Linked DNA regions of Homo sapiens: region 2 is linked to region 1. The links come from fine-mapping of genetic effects on gene expression. A gene starts in region 1. The other region holds a variant in brackets. All regions are shown on one strand. Distances are from middle to middle. Region 1 holds the start of FAM216B (family with sequence similarity 216 member B). Region 2 has its middle 22 kb from the start of LINC01050.

The links. PIP is the estimated chance that this variant, and not a neighbour inherited with it, causes the effect.
Region 2: its variant is the best candidate, but not a certain one, in a credible set for the expression of FAM216B in monocytes (Quach 2016, PIP 0.90).

What each region holds. Positions count from the first base shown.
Region 1 is chr13:42,778,973-42,783,379 of GRCh38, reverse strand. It overlaps FAM216B (family with sequence similarity 216 member B), which reads right to left and starts at 1,796. Exons shown (of 4, transcript NM_001318932.2): 1 at 1,716-1,796.
Region 2 is chr13:42,832,561-42,836,967 of GRCh38, reverse strand. No RefSeq gene overlaps it. Among named protein-coding and RNA genes, the nearest start is that of LINC01050, 22 kb to the right of the region's middle. The variant G/A (reference allele first, on the strand shown) is at 2,262.

The DNA.
Region 1 (4,407 bases):
CTAACTATCCATAATTATTGTTAGCATTTGGTTGATTTCCTTTTATTTGTTTATTTATTTATATGTTTTTTTGAGACAGAGTCTCACTCTATCATCCAGGCTGGAGCACAGTGGTGCGACTATAGCTCACCGCAGTCTTGAACTCCTGGGCTCAAGCCATCCTCCCACCTCAGCCTCCTGAGTAGCTGGGACTACAGGTACACACCCCACACCCAATTATTTTTTAAATTGTTAGTAGAGATAAGATCTCCCTATGTTCCCTGGGCTGGTCTCAAACTCCTGGGCTCAAGTTATCCTGCACCTCAGGCTCCCAAAGTGCTGGGATTACAGGTATGAGGCACCATGCTGAGCTTCACTTTCCTTTTATTTATTTATTTTTTTTTTCTGTGTACATTGTGTGTAATTTTAGAAAAGGGAGATCATAATTTATACATTTTGTGCACTTTCTCAGATCATTAAATATTCCTTAAAAATATGATTTTTAGTGGCAGTGTAGTATGCCTTTACGTCATTCTCCACTTCTTGCAATTTAGATGTGCAATTTTATAGCATTGTACTATAAAACTATTAAACTTGTCATGTTTCCACTTGCCTGAGAAAGATACAGAATAATAGAGTCACATTTGCTATGATTAAGTCTCCTTTCCTGGTGATTTAGGGTTTAGAGTCTGAAGTGTGTATAATAATATGAATTTAACAATCCAGCAAGAATAGACATATTGGAATAGGTTGCCAAATCACAAAGTGCAAACCCAGAGTATTTTCCCCTCTGCTTACTCCTTTGTCTTTGTTAGCAGTGTGAATTACTGAATGATAGAAAGTAAGACCACAGCAAATCAAACATAGTAACAATCTGCTAAACGTAGATTATTATTAATACCTGCACGTATATTAACTGAAGAAAATAAACTGTAATAGAGGCTGTATGGCCTTTAGAACTAGAAAGACTTGAGTTTCTTTCCTTCTGTAAGCCTCAGCCCTCTCATCCTTAAGACAGCAGTTACAATGCCTACCTCACTGGGTGTTTGATTCACTGAAATCGTGAATATAGAATGCTCTCACTTTATGCCAGTTTCTTCTCTCTCTACCCGACCTTCACGCATGTTCATGCACACAAACACATGCACACTCATAGGTTCATAAACATACACATGCTTAAGGAGTATTGTAATACATGTGGAGACTGATTTGAGTTCACACATCGAAGGTTCCATTCTTCCAGAAGAGAAATTTATTAGGAAAACATTAGTCAACATCTCTGTGTGTACTGTTTCTGCTATATAAATGTCTAAATTAAACTGTAAATATTTTAGTCAGTACTGCTTTCCTTTAATGTGCACTCCAGAAACCATACCAACCAAGATATACTCCTGTAATATTCTCTGTGATTGACACCTACGCTCTATCCTGTACTCAAATCATTTCAATATCCCTCCTCCCATTTTCCAGATCTGTAGAACAGAGAATAAATATGCTTCAAGCTGGAAAGATTTCTTCTCTCCTCAAATAGCATAAAGAAATGACTGATGCTCTTTCTTATGGCAACAATTCATGTGTGCTTTTCTGGGGCTACTGCTGAATAAATTTATCTTACCTATTCAAGTGGCCTATACCTGATAAAATTTGATTAAAATACTCATGGAATTCAGGGAGAGAAACATCTACAAAATAATATATCTGAAACAAAAAGACAGATTTGCCTAAAAAGAACTTACCCTATACTGTAGTTCCCCCACTTTTAAAAGCTGCCATTCCTATTCAGTGTAGTTTTCTTACGCGGACTCTGTTTATATGCTGGTGGTGGTGGTGGAAGTCTGTTGATAAGCTGATATCCAAGCAACATCATGTGATGAAACAAAGAGCTGGGGAAATCTGGCTGCATGCCTTTCTTCACTTCTGGGTAACATTCAGCTACACAGTTTGATATTTTTTCTTCCACATTTTGTGTCTAATCAAGTGTCATCTTCTAAATCTACCATATCTGTGTTACATGCAGATATCGGGGGTAACATGCATAGAGGCAGAGATTCTAAATATTAAAGGTCAACAAATCCATCAGGGCAATGGGCCATGACATAAATATTTCCAAAATTTGGAGTCAGTAGTCCCCTTCCTCATTGCTCAGGATGATGAAGGAAGAGTTCCTGAATATAGAGGTATGGGCATGAATTTGCCTGTGGTAACCTATGAAATTATTCCATAGTTTAAGCTAAGTTCCCTTTCATTTTGTGGGGGAATAAGATATTCTCCATATTTTATCTTAATTAGAGGCTACATATGATGATAATTAACCTGTGGCGTAAGACTAGAGCCCACACTGACCTCATCCTTTCTTCTGTGATAGCATTATTCTACTGGCTTCCTTTCTTTCTCAAGTGTCCTCCTTCTGAATGCCAGCTTATCTGCAAAGATGAAGAGTTCCTAAAGAAAAGGGAAGAAGAAATATCAAAAGAAAATACATTCAAAATTCTTAGGAGACTAAGGGGAAGAAAAAAGCAGGGAGATGAGAGTGATGAATCATATGCCTTAAAGAAGAAAGGGCTCAACAGATGCAAAAGTCTTGCATTTTTTCCCCAGTAATTTGAATGCAGACCTCCTGGGAAATAAGCACAGCACAAACAAGTGTCTTTAAATGCCAGTAAATAACATAAAATCTTTCACTGGATCTGAGAGGTTGATGATTCTTTACCAAGAGATAAAGAACAGTGGTGTGCAGAGTTGACATTGTCAATCGAGTCTTCCTCAAACGTTTTTCCAGGATATGATGAAATTCATTCTGGGTGCACTGCATCTGCTGATGTTGCACACACATGCTGAAATTCCTACCAGCTTGCCTTGGACGCTACTCAATCAGGAGAACAGTAACAGATCTGTGTTTGACAGAGGGCATTTAATGTAAGGAATCTGTTATGAAAATATAGAAATGGGTTAGAGGAGTAAAACAAGAAGGGTTAGGTTATCCAAGGACTGGCAATTGCACTAAACTGTGATTGCACATAGAGCTGGAGGACAATAGGGAAAATGATTTTACCCACAGCCCATGGACACTGTGCCATAGAGGCTGCTTCCTTTGGAGAACTGCTGCCTGAGCAGCGCCTCAGGAACCTGTGCTCACCAGGCACCCTTGCTTCTATGTTCTTGCCCAAACTGCTAATCTTGCTGTTGCTGTCACCACTGTTGCTGTCCATGTGGCTGCTGCTGCTGGCACTGCCACAGGTGCAAGCAGAAAGTATTTTTAAAAAATGGCTTCTTCCCTCCAGCCTTCATTCATGTCCTGCCCTCCATTGGATGCCAGCTAGCAAGGGATTTTGGGAAATGTATTTTGCAGTCTTCCTACTACTCTGATAAACAGAAGGGTATAGAAGAATCAACATGAGGCCGACAGATGGTGGACACTCTCTAACACAAACACAAATCTAAGAGGTACCTTTGGGACCTATGAAGTCAGGCAGGAGGATGAAGGACTTAGACATACAGTCAATGTTTACCTAACATCACTGAAAGTTGTCAATTTATAAGAAAAGAGGAAATAAGATAAAACTAGCTATGTAGATGGTATCAAAGAATGAGATCTAAATTTGTAGACATATTTTAAAATATAAGAATGAGGGAGTAATGCATATCCTAAGTTTGGGACAAAAAATGTTTTCCCAAAGACTAGTTTAACATTTCAAAAAGGATTTAAACTGATTACAAAAAAAATGGGAAAGAAACACCCATAATCTAATTACTATAGGGAATACAATGTCAACTATTAGTAGAAAAGTTGTACTATTTCACAGTTAAAATATTGGTACAGCAATGAGACTCACTGCTTAAGACATTGGCTGTTTAGAAGGTGGGTGATAAAGTGTTTTCATGGAATATCAGGGTAAATGTGACCTCATGAGTGATACCAAGTGAGGAAGAGGGACTCCTGATTGGAATCCAAGATGAAGTTAAACTCTAATTCAAAGAAACCCACCTGCTAGAGGGAGAGTGCCACTGTACATCATGGAGGTACACACTTTCCCGAAAAACTATGAACCCGGAAGGAAATGCTCTGCTCACATCCTTTTGCCAGGATCCTCTTAGCTGCAGAGATGTCTGTGAGGTTGTCTCTGCCAGGCACAGACATGCTGCTTGACTATCCAAGCCCTCAGAGGACCTCCATGCTCCTTAAGGAAGAGAAGGCAGTGTCCCTCTCCCCACTCTACTGCTGTTTATCCCCTGGACTCTACTTAGTCTTCTAGAGTCTTGGTTGAATTTCATTTCCCATTGAGCTATGTAGTCCCTTGAGCTCAAATTTTTTGGTGGGGGAAGAGGAGTTAGTTATTCCTAATTATCTTGTTTTTTCTTTGACCTCTTCATAGAAAACCCCTACTTTTCTGAGATTCCAAAACAAAAGCTGTCATATACACCAAACCT
Region 2 (4,407 bases), 54 kb before region 1:
ATTTCTGCCATATATACGTGTCAAACAACTTCATGATCTCACCCAGTATGGGTACTTAGTAAATATTCAATACTGATAATAATTATAAGGGTAATTCACCCTTAGGAATGTAGAAGGGGCTTGCAAGCTAACTGGGAGGCCTTTAAAGAGAAAGAGCATCGTTTTCTCATGGTGAGAGTGGAAGAGTACTAATGTGAAGTCTGACTCTGCTCTGTGCTACTTGTGGTTTCTGCTCAGTGACGCTCCTGTAGATGAACTCAAACTTTAATGAATTCCATATGCTGTAAGCTGTGGGATCCCAAAGGGCAGAGATGGGTCATTTTAGTGGCCTTGTCTGTGTCTTGGAATGATTTAATGTGTCAGGGATATATATATATATATATATATATATATATATATATTTTTTTTTTTTTTTTTTTTTTTTTTTTTTTTTTTTTTGAGATGGAGTCAAACTCAGCTGCCCAGGCTGGAGTGCAGTGGCATGATCTCGGCTCACTGCAACCACTGTCTCCCGGGTTCAAGTGATTCTCCTGTCTCAGCCTCCCAAGTAGCTGGGATTTCAGGCACCCGCCATCACGCCTGGCTAATTTTTGTATTTTAGTAGAGACTGGGTTTCACCATGTTGGCCAGGCTGGTCTTGAACTCCTGACCTCACGTGATCTTCCCGCCTTGGCCTCCCAAAGTGTTAGGTTTACAGACGTGAGCCACCGTGCCCAGCCTGAGGAATATTTAATGAGAAGACATGACAATGGCAGGGCAAATTCACCTTGGGTGGGCATCAGGTAGGGGACCAGTGACTTCTGTAAGGCAAACGAATTGAATTTTATTCCCCCTGGTGCTTCATCAGGGGCGAAACATATAATATCCAATAGAAAACTGGCCTGGTGAGGTGGCTCATGCCTGCAATTCTAGAACTTTGGGAAGCCAAGGCAAGAGGATCACTAGAGACCAGGAGTTCTCAATGGGCAACGTAGTGAGAACCTGTCTCTAAAAAAAAATATATATATATATTAAAAATTATCCTGGCATAGTAACATGTGCCTGTAGTCCCAGCTACTCAGGCGGCTGAGGCAAGAGGATGGCTTGAGCCCAGGAGTTTGAGGCTGCAGAGAGCTACGTTCACACCACTGCACTCTAGCCTGGGTGACAGAGCAAGACCCTATCTCTAAAAAAGAAAAGAAAAAAAAAGAAATAAAATTGATGAAGGTATTTGTGGAATGGTGTTAAATAAAAGATATATTGTAAACACCATTCCATCTTAGACAAGAATGGGCGCATTTAGGGTGGTATGGCCGTAGACACACCATACCATTTTAGCCTAATAGAGAGCCTCTTAGAGGCCCGCCCTTAATAATGTTGTCATCTTGTGTAATATTATTCCATTTCCCTTCTTTTAAGAATCCCCCAAATGTTCGCATGAAAGAGAACTTTTAACATTATATGTATATGTTTATATATATTAATATATATATATATATGTGCATGTGCTTTGAGCCTGTTTCTGTAGATTGAAAAAAAGATCTATTTGCTTATGGTGGAAGATGCTGTTAATTCTTTGAAGTGGTTCGGAAAAGGTCTTTGAGTAAGTGGATCCTGGTGACCTACATGTTAGCATAAGTGTAAAAGGTTAAGCTTGCTAGTTCCTCCTCACCCAGTGGACCAAGCCTGATGGACTGTAATTGGTGCTTTGCCCTTTCTAGCTCTTAAATCATTACAAGGCCTGGCACTGGGACCTATGTCATTGGTAAAGGGAAGGAAGCCTAACGTGTGCATTGCTCCATGACTGCCGTTGGTTTACTAATGAATCATTTATCAGAGATGAATGAGTTAAGAGAAATATCTGCAGTATGACCCAAGAAGCCCCCACAGTATGGTGCATGATGAAATAACAGACCGAATATATTATAAAAATCTCTGAGTATTGTGGAGAAATCTAGAAGACACTGATAATAAATCAGTGTCACTATTTATGTCAGATTCCCAACAGACAAACCCAATTGCATCAGGCCCCTCCATAGCTTACTATGCACAATGGGACTATTAGATACATTCTTGGTCTAATGGGTTGCTGCCTGATTGCCACAGTGTTAAGGGTAAGAGGGAGGAGAGCCTGAGAAGCACAAGGTAGACCACCAAATGGTTCAGTTCAGTTAGTCCTAGGGGCTCTCCGGATGCCATTGCTTCCATCCCTCCGGGTGTCAAGGCCCTGCCCTCCTTCCTAGTTGTTTGTGGTTGCTTAAGTGCCCCATGTCATTGAAGAG[G/A]GAGGGGAGGTGATTGTCCTTATCAGGTGGGTTGGACAGAACTTAGCAAAAGTCAGATGAGCTTCACTCCTGCTTGTCCGTCAGTGAGTGATGCCCAGACTGCTGTGGCCTGAGCGCTGGTTCTGCCACCACAAAGCTTCTGAGGTAGCAAATCTGAACAGCCTCCTGATGGTCCTCCATTCCTGCCCATGGAATCCCTCTCTCCCCTTCTCCTGAGCCAGGAAATTGTTTCCTGGACTGATGGACATGGACTGATGAGTCTATTTTTCCAAATTTGTACCATCTTGTACCTGCACTTTAGCTTGTCACATGTCAGTAAATAATTTCACTCCATTGTTCTCTTCTCTCTGCCCCAATATCCTAAGGCAGTGGGTGCTTCATAATGTCTCACTGAAGTTGGGGGAGATATTTCGTAGGACATACAAAGACAATCCAAGGAGAGGGGAAGCTGATTTGGGAGGGAGATTGAACACAGTTAAAACTTTAAAAATGTTATTTTGCATATTTGTTATCAGATGTGCAAATAACTTACTAAAGCATGTATAAGCTATTGTGGATAATTTAACCTTTTTGTACCTTCATTTTTTTTCATTTTTAATGGGTATAACAATTACAATTACATCTTAATTAACAAACCTGTGAGTATTGAAAAATGTAATTCATATAAAATGCTTCATTTGGGACTGGGCATGTCACACAAACATACGTTCAATGTTAAGGAGGAAATAGGAAGGAGTTAGCCATGCCATCTACTTCCTAGCTGACCATTTATATTTATTGTGTTAGTTTTCTGTGGCTGTTGTAACAAATTACTGCAAACTTTGTGGCTTAAAACAACAGAAATTTATTCCTCCACAGTTTTGGAGGCTGGAAGTCCCAAAATCGATTCCACTGGGCCAAAATTGAGATGTCAGCAGAGCTGTGCTCCCCTGGAAGCTCTGGAAGAGATCATGTTTGTGGCTGCACCATGCCAACGTTTGCCGCCATGCCTTTGTGTGTGTGTGTGTATGTATAAACTCTCCCTCTACTTTCCTCTTATAAGAATACACTTAGGCCCCAACAGATAATCCAGAATGATCTCTTATCTCAAGATCCGTAACTTAATCACATCTGCAAAGACCCTTTTCCTGATAAAGTAACATTTACAGGTTCTAGTGCTTAGGACCTGATATATCTGGAAGGCTATTATTCTGCCTACCACATCTGATCTCTCCTAGCCTCAGTTACCTTACCTGTAAGTTGGGAATAATAATACCTTCCTTACAGGTATTGTGAGGATTAATTCCATAACATATGTGAAAATGCCTCATTAATGTTAATATGTTATGCAAATAGTTGTTGAAAAAATCTTTGAAAATCTGTCGAGATGAATGTAACTGCAGTATGCATCCATGGCGAAGTAGAGCATACAGCCTACATTTTCTGAAATGGTGTTAGGATAATCTAATGTTGAAAATCACAATAAGCTGTCAGGTTTTGTTCACCATAAACATTACAGGTATACTCTTTGCTGGATACTCTTCTGAGGACTGAAGTTATAAGGATACAGAAGCCCTAATCTTGAGGACATTATATTCCATTTGGAGTAAAGAGGCACACAAAGTTTAAATACACTGTGATAAGTGGCGTGACAGAATATCCCCAAGAGTGTTGCGTCATGAAGTGGGGGTGGGGAGGGCTTGGACCATCACTGGGAAGTCCAGGAAGGACTTCTCATCTTTGTGGGTAGTGGCTTTGGAAAAAACTCAACTAGCCTGTAGATCTGGCCTGTCTCGGTTGCTTTGAGTCATAAGTTAAACAGATTGTTTCTATAACCCCTTTGGCTCTTGAACTTTGGAGTGGAATGGATGATGTTGTGGAACGGGATCAAAACATGGATATTTGCTACTTGACTCTTCTCCAAAGCCTGAAGGCCGCGGCGTTATATCAGGAGGATACTTTAATATAGCACAAAGAGTCCAGGAAGACCTCCTAATCCTTTTCTCCCACTTCCTAATTTTAAAAATGCCTGAATCTTTAGTAATCAAACCAAATAAATTATGAAATACCCATTGACAGATGGTGGGTTTGATGGAGCTGTCCCTGGAAATAGATTTGTAATTCTGTCCTGTTGATGGGAAAGAGGATGTCGATAGGTTTCTGATTC